3 separate regions of the Homo sapiens genome follow, and all the other regions are reported to be linked to region 3. The links are microRNA targets in miRTarBase. Many come from high-throughput screens and were not tested one by one. Region 3 holds a microRNA gene; each other region holds the end of a gene's coding sequence.
The links. The annotated mature microRNA hsa-miR-1238-3p reads CUUCCUCGUCUGUCUGCCCC and lies in region 3 at 2,272-2,291, opposite strand. An mRNA with a match to its seed (bases 2 to 7 or 8) in the 3' UTR can be bound and repressed. Matches are read on the target gene's strand: a 7mer-m8 pairs with bases 2 to 8, a 7mer-A1 pairs with bases 2 to 7 and ends in A, and an 8mer does both.

Region 1: the mRNA of TFIP11 is a reported target of hsa-miR-1238-3p. Seed matches in the 3' UTR shown: 7mer-A1 at 1,894-1,900.
Region 2: the mRNA of BUD23 is a reported target of hsa-miR-1238-3p. Seed matches in the 3' UTR shown: 7mer-A1 at 2,535-2,541.

The regions. Positions count from the first base shown.
Region 1 is chr22:26,489,597-26,492,596 of GRCh38, forward strand. It overlaps TFIP11 (tuftelin interacting protein 11), which reads right to left. Exons shown (of 15, transcript NM_012143.4): 15 at 1,644-2,772. The coding sequence ends at 2,417. SRRD (SRR1 domain containing) reads left to right here. Exons shown (of 7, transcript NM_001013694.3): 5 at 448-602; 6 at 1,429-1,474; 7 at 1,867-3,000. The coding sequence ends at 2,076. Among named protein-coding and RNA genes, the nearest start is that of SRRD, 7.2 kb to the left of the region's middle.
Region 2 is chr7:73,697,398-73,700,674 of GRCh38, reverse strand. It overlaps BUD23 (BUD23 rRNA methyltransferase and ribosome maturation factor), which reads right to left. Exons shown (of 12, transcript NM_017528.5): 11 at 2,981-3,070; 12 at 2,463-2,843. The coding sequence ends at 2,789. STX1A (syntaxin 1A) reads left to right here. Exons shown (of 10, transcript NM_004603.4): 10 at 191-1,465. The coding sequence ends at 268. Among named protein-coding and RNA genes, the nearest start is that of MIR4284, 12 kb to the left of the region's middle. RefSeq lists an enhancer at 799-1,300.
Region 3 is chr19:10,551,131-10,554,473 of GRCh38, reverse strand. MIR1238 (microRNA 1238) reads right to left here and starts at 2,352; the gene lies at 2,270-2,352. It overlaps ATG4D (autophagy related 4D cysteine peptidase), which reads right to left. Exons shown (of 10, transcript NM_032885.6): 7 at 2,499-2,577; 8 at 2,353-2,429; 9 at 2,150-2,269; 10 at 1,056-1,589. The coding sequence ends at 1,407. KRI1 (KRI1 homolog) reads left to right here. Exons shown (of 19, transcript NM_023008.5): 19 at 193-1,389. The coding sequence ends at 523. RefSeq lists enhancers at 45-124, 155-204, 225-394.

The sequences.
Region 1 (3,000 bases), not on the chromosome of region 3:
AGAGAGCAGTGGTTCTCAGGAGGGGTGATTGTGCCTCAGGGACATTGGAAGAGGACTTAGTTATGCAGATCTGCAGGAAGTGACATAGGAAGTGTGGATTACTGAACACAGGGGAAATACATGGGGTAAGTAACATCACTATCCCTCCTGTTCTTGCCGTCATAGACCCAGGAAGCCCCTCCATCAGTGCAGGGCTTTGTGTTCATGAGAACACAATGTGTACATTTGTTAAGTAAACATGAGTTCTTTCGGGACATCATGATTTCCTGACTCTTTAGTCCTGTAACTATAGATTTCATATACGAGTGTAACTGTTCCACAAAATGAGCTTTTTTCCTTTTGATCCTTTAGTTTGTCTCATGATTATCCCCATCCTTACCTCTCCCTCACCTTGCTGTAAAGAATAGGTTGTGGGCATGTTTACACCTGTGAATATCGTATCCCCAGGAAGGGAAACGGAGTATTCGCGGGGAGCCTACCATCTTTTACATGCTCCATTGTGGGACGGCCTTGTACAACAATCTTTTATGGAGTAACTGGTCAGTAGATGCCCTTTCTAAGATGGTCATCATTGGGAACAGTTTCAAAGGACTTGAGGAGAGGTAAGTCTGAGAATGCTGAGATTCTGTCAGGCCCTGAGGTGAAGCCCATACCTCAGATTGACCCACATGCAGAAAACATTTCCTTGACGATTCCATACTGGGGAAATGCTTTTCCACAGGGAACTGGATGAAGGCTTAAAGACAGATGTCAAATCCTGATTCGAACTATGAAGCAAGTTAAGGAGTCTTTTTGCCACGAATTCCTCCCTTCCATTATGATACACAGAAATGGTTTTGAAAACAGGGAAAAGCTATTTGATTCCTCTGCCTACAGCTCCACGTCCTCATTCTGTTTCACGTGCTTAGGAGTCTGCTCAGTCATTTCTCTTGATGAAATGGGCACAATTACTGGAATATTTGCTTTTTTTTTTTTTTTTTTTTTTGAGATGGAGTCTCACTCTGTCCCCCCGGCTGGAGTGCAGTGGTATGATCTCAGCTCACTGCAACCTCTGTCTCCTGGGTTCAAGCGATACTCCTACCTCAGCCTAATGAGTAGCTGGGATTACAGATGCACACCAGGACGCCCGGCTGATTTTTTTATTTTTAGTAGAGATGGGGTTTTACCATGTTGGCCATGCTGGTCTTGAACTCCTGACCTCAAATGATCCGCCCGCCTCAGTCTCCTGAAGTGCTGGGATTACCTGCGCCTGGCCCACATTTTCAACTATTTAACTGGTTTACTCCACATCTTGAGTTTTTTCCTGAATTCTTACTATGCTTCAATCATCTTGCCCTTCTATGTGTCTTAAAAGTTGAATGAAACTATCCTCATACCTCCTAATCATGGTGTTTTTTTTTTGTTTTTTTGGTTTTTTTTAATTTCTAGGTTGTTGGCAAGGATTCTGCAGAAAAATTATCCCTACATTGCAAAGGTATCTATCTGAATAAAGGGGCTGGGATGGAAAAGGGTGTGAAACTGTGAAGAATTCTATCTTTCTTTACAGGCGTAGGAGGAAACTCATGGGCTAAGTGGCGCTAGTGTACTGTCAGCTCTCTCCATGGGTCTGTGTTCCAGAAAGCTATGACTCTTTAATGCATCTCTTAGTTTTTTCCTTATTTCCTTTATTCTTAGTATCACAGTCCATGATATCCACTGTCCTTGGGGCGCCCAATTCATTGTGCAAAAGCATTTAAATCAAAATACCCTATTTGTTATTTTTTTAAAAAGTAAAGTGGGGATGACAAGTAAAGTGGAAATTTATCCCAGAAGAGTGGGGATTACTGTGACTATCTGAAGTTTTTATACTTGAATTTTTCTGCTCAGATTTTAAAAGGACTGGAGGAGCTTGAGTTTCCTCAGACTTCACAATACATGGACATATTTAATGATACCTCTGTCCACTGGTTCCCTGTGCAAAAGCTAGAACAGCTCTCCATAGATATTTGGGAGTTTCGGGAAGAACCAGATTATCAGGACTGTGAGGACCTTGAAATCATCAGGAACAAGAGAGAAGATCCTTCTGCTACTGACTGAACTCGTTGTGAGGTACTCAGTGTTGGCTGAGGTAGAAGCTGCCACCAGAGACTAAAGGGAAGGCTGCTATGGAGGAACTACAGAGAACTCCTTTGCCAGGAAAGAACATCAACTTGGCTGTCCTGTTTTGAGGACGATACCCCACATGAGGACTTGGTATAAAGATTCCTGCCCTACGTGGCATTGTCCCATTTTACATCCTTCCCTCATGACCTGGCCTGATGTGGAGTAGCTCCTGAGTAAAGAAGTTACCCTTTTGAAGGTGATCTAAAAATACTGTTTATTTACAGTACATCCCTCTTAGGGGCAAGTCTCTGACTGGTTCTGGACCTGCCACAGTTCACTTGGCCATGTCGATCAGGCTCTGCAGTGAGGTGGGCACCCACGTCTTCTCGCCCTGGACAAAGACCACTCCCCGGTCGATGTAGATCACAATGCGGCCAAAGGTGTAGAGCTGCTTCCCTTCGTGTCGCTTCCCAATGACGGGCATGAAGACAATGTTGTGCTCCTCAGCCTTGGTCTCAATGAGGTCCTTAAAGTTCATGGGCACAGAGCTAGCGGCCACGCCAATGCCCCTCTGAGCCATGTTCTCAGCCTCCCGCCTCTCCTGCATGGCCTCGTACTGGAAGTCCTTCCTCCGCTCCGTGTGGGTGAGATAGGCAATGTTCTCCCGTGCTCCTGGCTGCATGTAGGCACCTAAGATACAGGAGGACAGGGCGGTGAGGAGAGGTGTTTCCAGGTGTATGGAAGTTGACACTGTGGCTTGGCCCAGGTCTTGGGTGTGCCAGAGTGCTTGTGACTCACTGAAGGGCAGCTCTGCCTCAAAGATACAACTTTGGAGGAAGTTTAGACGACTGGCCAGTATCACATAAAAACTGTTCAGAAGGTTCCTGGCTAGTATCTAGTAACCAGATTATTAATATT
Region 2 (3,277 bases), not on the chromosome of region 3:
ACCATCCCACATCCCTCCCCATCCCACCTCTCTCCCTTCTCTCAGGAGCTCCCCATGACAGCCCCCTCCCAGGCCGTCACCTTCCCCTGCTTGGATCCCCCCCGACTGTCCAGTCCTCAGCCTTTGCCATAGTCCCACCCCACCTGCCGCCAACACTGTCTGAGGCCTCTCCTGCCCGCTTCCCATGCAGAAGAAAATCATGATCATCATCTGCTGTGTGATCCTGGGCATCGTCATCGCCTCCACTGTTGGGGGCATCTTCGCCTAGAAGCCACCCAAACTGCCACTCCACTCCAGGTGGGCCACTCCAAGGAGGCCCTGGCTGCTGCCACCTGGCTGGGCTGCCCTCCCAACCCCCGCCTCTGGCTCAGAGCACCCTCCCTCCCGGCCCCCATGCTCCCTTCTCTGCCATGGGCCCTCCGTCCCCGCCCCGTGTCGTGTGCATGATCTCTGTGAGTGTGCGTCTGTACGGGAAGAGGCAGAGGGAGGCAGCCAGCGGGGCGTGATGCAGTGTGCACAGCGAGGAGCAGACCCAGGCAGGGCCGCCAGGGTGACACAGGCCACCCTTCCTTGCCTTCAGTAACTCGGTGGGCCCAGGTTCTGCTCTTCCCTGGGGACCCTAACCTCGCCTCCAGCTGACCTGCCCTGTCCTCTCCAGCTGTCCCCACAAGCAGAGCCCTGAGGGGTGGGGACCAGCTGGCCACATGGTGCTGCTTTTCAGGTTAGGGGAGAGGTGGCCCTGAGGGACAGCCCAGCTCTGAGTCTCAGTCGCTGATCACTGCCAGGGAGGCTCAGGCTGCCATGGCTCCAGGCTCCCTCCCCTGCCTAGGGGCAAAGTCCATCGGGTCCTGGGCCTCAGCTTCCCTTCCCACATTCCTCCGGCCCCAGGAGCAACCCCTTGGGCTAGGTCTGACCCCAGGTGTCCCTCTGGAAGGGGCTGGCTGGTGCCCTATTTCCAGCCACCCCAGCAGCTAGGGAGGCAAAGCAGGCTGCAGTCAGTCCCTCAAGCCAGCGTTGCATGTTTGGGATGGTGGCTCCTGTTGTCTTGCGCTCTGGGAAGTCAGATGTCATTTCAGGCCTGCAGTCTCATCCTGCCCTTGCCATCCTCCCATCGATGTGCCACGTGGGTGTCACGTGTCCCAGATGCAGTATTCGGCAGCCAGCCGGGGAGGGCTACCTCCTCCTCCTCACCACCTTGGGGCTTCTCATGGGAAATGTGCCCCCGCCCCAGGACCCTCTCCCTTGTGGACAGGCAGGGAGATGCATGCGAGTGCATGCAGCAGGGGATGGGGCCGTGTCCGTGTGCCCCACCCTCCCTCGGCTTTACTCCTGCCCAGTGACTGTGACCACTGTCCGTGTTGCCTTCTTGAACAGCGATTCCCCCCAACCCCTTCACCAAAGGTCTTGGTACAACCAGCTGCCCATTTTGTGAAATTTTTATGTAGAATAAACATTTGTATCTGTACCAGGCCTCTGTTGTAGATTTCTTCCCCAGGTCTCCTGGGGGAAAACCTTAGGAGGGTTCTCACTATTGCCCAAGCTGGCCTCCCACCTCAGCCTCCCACAGAGCTGGGACCACAGGTTGTGCCTGGCCTGGCTGCTCTAGACTTCTTGCCATCTGCAGTGTCACAGTCTTAGAACCTGAGGATGAATGAATGTGGCACTAAGAGGAAGGGCTCAGAGGCGAGGATCCCAACTCAGCCTCAACCCCACCCTGGGCCTTCAACTTCCTCAGACCTGTCTCTGGCCGTGCAGTGGAAAACATCCAGGCCTTATTCCCTGAGAACAGGCCCAGAGGCCACTCTCAAGGCCTGGAATCTGACACCTGCAGGAAACCCCACTGCAGGGCTTAGATCCTCAGGCCCCAAGCCTCACCCCACTCCCAGACACCCAGCCCCTCGGGCCCCGGCACCCATTCCCTAATGTCTTAAGCTGCTGAACACCTAATCCAGCTCTGTACTGCAATGCCCAGGATCTTGCCCCTCTTCCCACATGGACCAAAAGGCTCAAGCAACCATTACACCTCCTCTCCTATCACAGCCAGCTGGACAGTCCCACACTACCCCAGAGCAGGACCTTCCCTTTCCAACCACTAGTGACGGGACAAGAGATCAGCCCAAGACATCCAAGCACTGGGCTGGTAGGCAGCTGACCGTGCAGCTCAGTGCCACAGTTCAAGCTGGGGCCGCTGGACTGGCAAGGCCTTCACAGGAAGGGAAAACGGACTGGCCAGCAGGCACCACGAACACATTTCATGTGGGCCCTCTTCCCAACTTTGCTTGGTGTGATTATGATACAGTTATATATAAGCCCTAAATTAAAGGACTCTGTGTTCCTTGCAAATGGAAAGAATGCTTTCATCTAAGTGTTTTAAATCTGATTCCTGCCTGGGGAGTCGAGCAGTAGCCCACCAGGAGGAACTGGAGTTTGGTGAGAATCACAGAGCTGGGAGATGCCAGAGCTCCACAAAAGGAAATTTTATTTCTTGCCTTTAAACAAAATAAGATGCTCTCAGAGCTTTTTTTTTTTTTTTTTTTCCTCCCTGGAAAGGAAGTTTCATTATGTTGCCCAGGCAGGTCTCAAACTCCTGGCCTCAAATGATCCTCCCACCTCAGCCTCCCAAGGTGCTGGGATTACAGGTGTGAGCCACCACGCCCGGCCCAGAGAACTTTTTTTTTACTGCAGAAAACATTTTTATAACTTTAGAACTTTTCTAAAATACTACTTTGTCAGCTGAACAATATAGAAAAGTGCAGAGGCAAGTGCCTTTCCAGAACCGCGTGGTGACTTAGAAGCGGGGCTTGCGCTTGCGGCCGGTGTACTGGGTGTCAGGTCTGACTTCCCTGTGCAGAAAAGGAATAGGACAGTCTCAGAAAAAAAAGATCAAAGCAGCCCTGGACCCTTCAAATAAAGGGAAGCTCTTCATGGCAATAGTCATCCACCCCCCACCCACCCTGCCAGCTCCCAGGCTGGCACTCACCTGCCCTGGCGCCTGTGCCGCTCCTTCTTCTCCAGCACCCATGCCCGACTCTTCCTCACCATTCCCCGCCTCGACATCCTTAATGGGAACCTGTGGCGGAGACACAGCTATGAGCTGATGGACAGCTGATGGATGGGGCTGCCCGACTGGCCCCCATGTGAATCCATGGCAAGCTTACCTCCGAGTCTGGTGGCCTCGGATGCCCCTTCTCTCAAATGCTCCACCTTCCCTATAACACAATTCCCCGCTCTGGACACCCTCCTTCCTGATAACATCCATCCGGGCCACAGAGGTTGT
Region 3 (3,343 bases):
TAGTCTTTGGGTTCCGTAGAAAAGCGCTGGCTTTGGCCTGAAACCCAGGTCTGAATCCCAGGCAGGCCCTCGGTCGCTGTGCGGCTGCTTCACTATGCCCCTCCTTTCCCTGTCTGTAAAATGGGGCATGCGTGCTCAAGAATGGGCCTGATCTTGACAGGCCTGGGCTGAGCCCTGACTTTTCTCCCTCAGGGCAGAGACACCTGCGGAAGCCACAGGGAAGCCACAGAGAGATGAAGCCGGCCCACAGAGGCAGCTGCCAGCCCTTGATGGCAGCTTGATGGGGCCGGAGAGTCCCCCAGCACAGGAAGAGGAAGCCCCTGTATCACCCCACAAGAAGCCAGCCCCCCAGAAGCGGAGGAGGGCCAAGAAGGCACGGCTGCTGGGCCCCACTGTGATGCTTGGTGGATGCGAGTTCAGCCGCCAGAGACTGCAGGCCTTTGGCCTCAACCCCAAACGGCTGCACTTCCGCCAGCTGGGCCGGCAGCGGAGGAAACAACAGGGGCCCAAGAACAGCTCCTGAGCACCAGGGAGCAGGCAGGGGCCTCAGGCTCCTCTCCTCAAATCAAGCCCTGGACAGGTCTCGCACCCACAAGTACTATCTGCTGCAGAGATCCTCTCATCTGTGGCCAGGCACGCCTGTAATCCCAGCACTTTGGGAGGCCGAGGTGAAAGGATCACTTGAGCCCAGGAATTGGAGACCAGCGTGGGCAACTTAGCGAGACTCCATCTCTACAAAATGTGGTGACACATGCCTGTAGTCCCAGCTACTCAGGAGGCTGGGGAAGGAAGATCACTTAAGGCCATGAGTTTGAGGCTACAGAGAGCTATGATTGCACCACTGCACTCCAGCCTGGGCAACAAAGCAAGACCCTGTCTCTTGAAAAAAAAAAAAAAATTAAAAAACACGTGTAGCTGTGGGTAAGGAAGTCGTCCCATTTTATGGATGTGGAAACTGAGGCTGACTTAAACTTCCCGTGACTTGGAGCTCTCACCTCGAGACACCTCCCAGACCCCACATCCCCTCAGAACGCTGCGCCCAGCCACACCCACGATCAAGTTACACAGCTTTATTGGCCCCCAGCAGCCACAGTTCCCCCAAGGGGGCTTTGGGACAGGGAGGGCCCGGGCGTCCAGTGCAAACTACAGTACGTGAGTCAGGCCCTGAGGGGGGTGCCCGGGGTCCTCCTTCCCTACCCTGCCAGGAGGGCCCCGCTGGTGGGAGACAGGTGTATGGGCTCTGTGGGCTCTGTCCCTGGCTGAATGGCCCCAGACTGGTTGCAGCTGGGCTTGAGGGGCTGACAACAGGAAGTACCATCATCACTGCCAGAGCTCAAGATCCCACACCCGACATGACATAAATAAAAAAATAAATAGTGTTGTATCTTTCCCCTCATCCCCTCCCTTTATAAAAACACAAAGTCCTCAGAGCTGGGGCGTTTGGCCCTGAGGAGCCGCCCTGTGCGAGGGAGCCGGAGTGTGGGCTGGGCGAGCTGGGAGCAGAGGTCGTCCAGGCTGTGGTCCTGAGCATGGCCCTCGGCCAGGGTGAACATGGGGTACCGCTCTGTGGCTGAGGAGGAGCTGAGGACCTGGCGGGAAGAGGGAGACAGGGTCAGCCACAAACAGTGCCAAGCCATATTCCTTAGCCCAGGTTTATTTAGTAGGTGCTTCTCAGGACCACCTCTCCAGGAGAGAGCAGCCAATCAGCACCTTCCATCCCCTGGCCACAGTGATTGGCTCAGCCATGAGCATGTGACCCAGCTCAGCCAAAGACTGACAGTCCTGGGATTTTTGCTGCAAAACCTGCGTTTCCCTTCCAGTGACCACAGGGTGGGTGCCCAGAATGGCTGGTGGCCATCTCTCGCCCCCATAAGGGTAGAGTCCTGGTCGGACAGCAGGGCCAAGAGACAGGGAGGGTTCCCACCACTTGAGCCCCTGGATACAGCTGCCTCCAAGGGATGATGCCTTAACAGTGGGCTTTGGCGTTCCCACCTTTTCAGGGGTGGACATTCTTCACATTTCCCAGGTTAGGACCCCTAGCCTGGAAGCAGCACCCCAGCTCTGCTGGACTCGAGGCCTCTGTTCCTCTTTCACCCCCAGCCCTGCCCAACCGCCCCCCTCACCCCACTCCAGCTTTCCTCTTGCTCACCCTGGTCAGCTCTGAGCAGAGTGTCTCAAACTCCTTCCTGTCTCCAGCATAGAAGCCCACGGTACAGCTTGGGTCCATCTTGGCAAAGGCCATCTTGCGGGGCGAGGTGCAGTGGAAGGACTGGGGCAGACAGACGAGGAAGGCTCAGAGGCTGGGCTGCCCACCCGCCATGGCCCCAACCACACACTGGGGCTCCCACTCACCTCCAGGGGGAAGTCGGCCTGGCTGACATCCACAGTGGGCTGGCAGTAGTGAGGGTCCAGGTACAGCAGGAAGTCATCTGCAGGGGGTGCAGGTGTGAGTGGGGGTGCGGTGGGGGGTGGGAGGAGTGAGGAGGGGGTGGGCCTACCTTGGTAGCCAATGAAGTACAGTGAGTGTCGCGGTTTCCCACCCATGATGCCCAGGCACAGCTCGCAACGCAGGAGTTCCTGCAGGGAGGAGGGTAGGCAGGTGCTGTCAGGCAGCCACTCAACAAACGCTTGGCAAACACCTCCTCTGTGAGAACCCAGCCTCTGGAGGGCAGCAGTGATCAAGACCACAAAACCCTTGCCCTCAGGAGCTGACATCCTAGTGTGAGAGACTAACAAGGAAGATGATTACATGAATTTTTTTTTTTTTTTTTTTTTTGAGACGGAGTCTCACTCTGTCACCCAGCCTGGAGTGCAGTGGCCCAATTGGCTCACCGCAACCTCCGCCTCCTAAGTTCAAGCGATTCTCCTGCCTCAGCTTCTCAAGTAGCTGGGATTACAGGCACCCGCCACCACACCCGGGTTAATTTTTTGTATTTTTAGTAAAAATGGGGTTTCACCATGTTAGCCAGGCTGGTCTGGAACTCCTCCTAACCTCAGGTGATCTGCCCGTCTCGGCCTCCTAAAGTGCTGGGATTACAGGCTGGAGTGCAGTAGCACGATCTTGGCTCACCGAAACCTCCATCTCCTGGGTTCAAGCAGTTCTCCTGCCTCAGCCTCCCGAGCAGCTGGGATTACAGGCGCCCGCCACCACGCCCAGCTAATTTTTGTATTTTTAGTAGAGACGAGGTTTCACCATGTTGGCCAGACTGGTCTTGGACTCCTGACCTCAGGTGATCCACCTGCCTCCCAAAGTGCTGGGATTACAGGCGTGGGCCACCACGCCCAGCCAATTACATGATTTATCTCATGTGTTAGAGGTGATAACTATATGGAAAAGAATAAA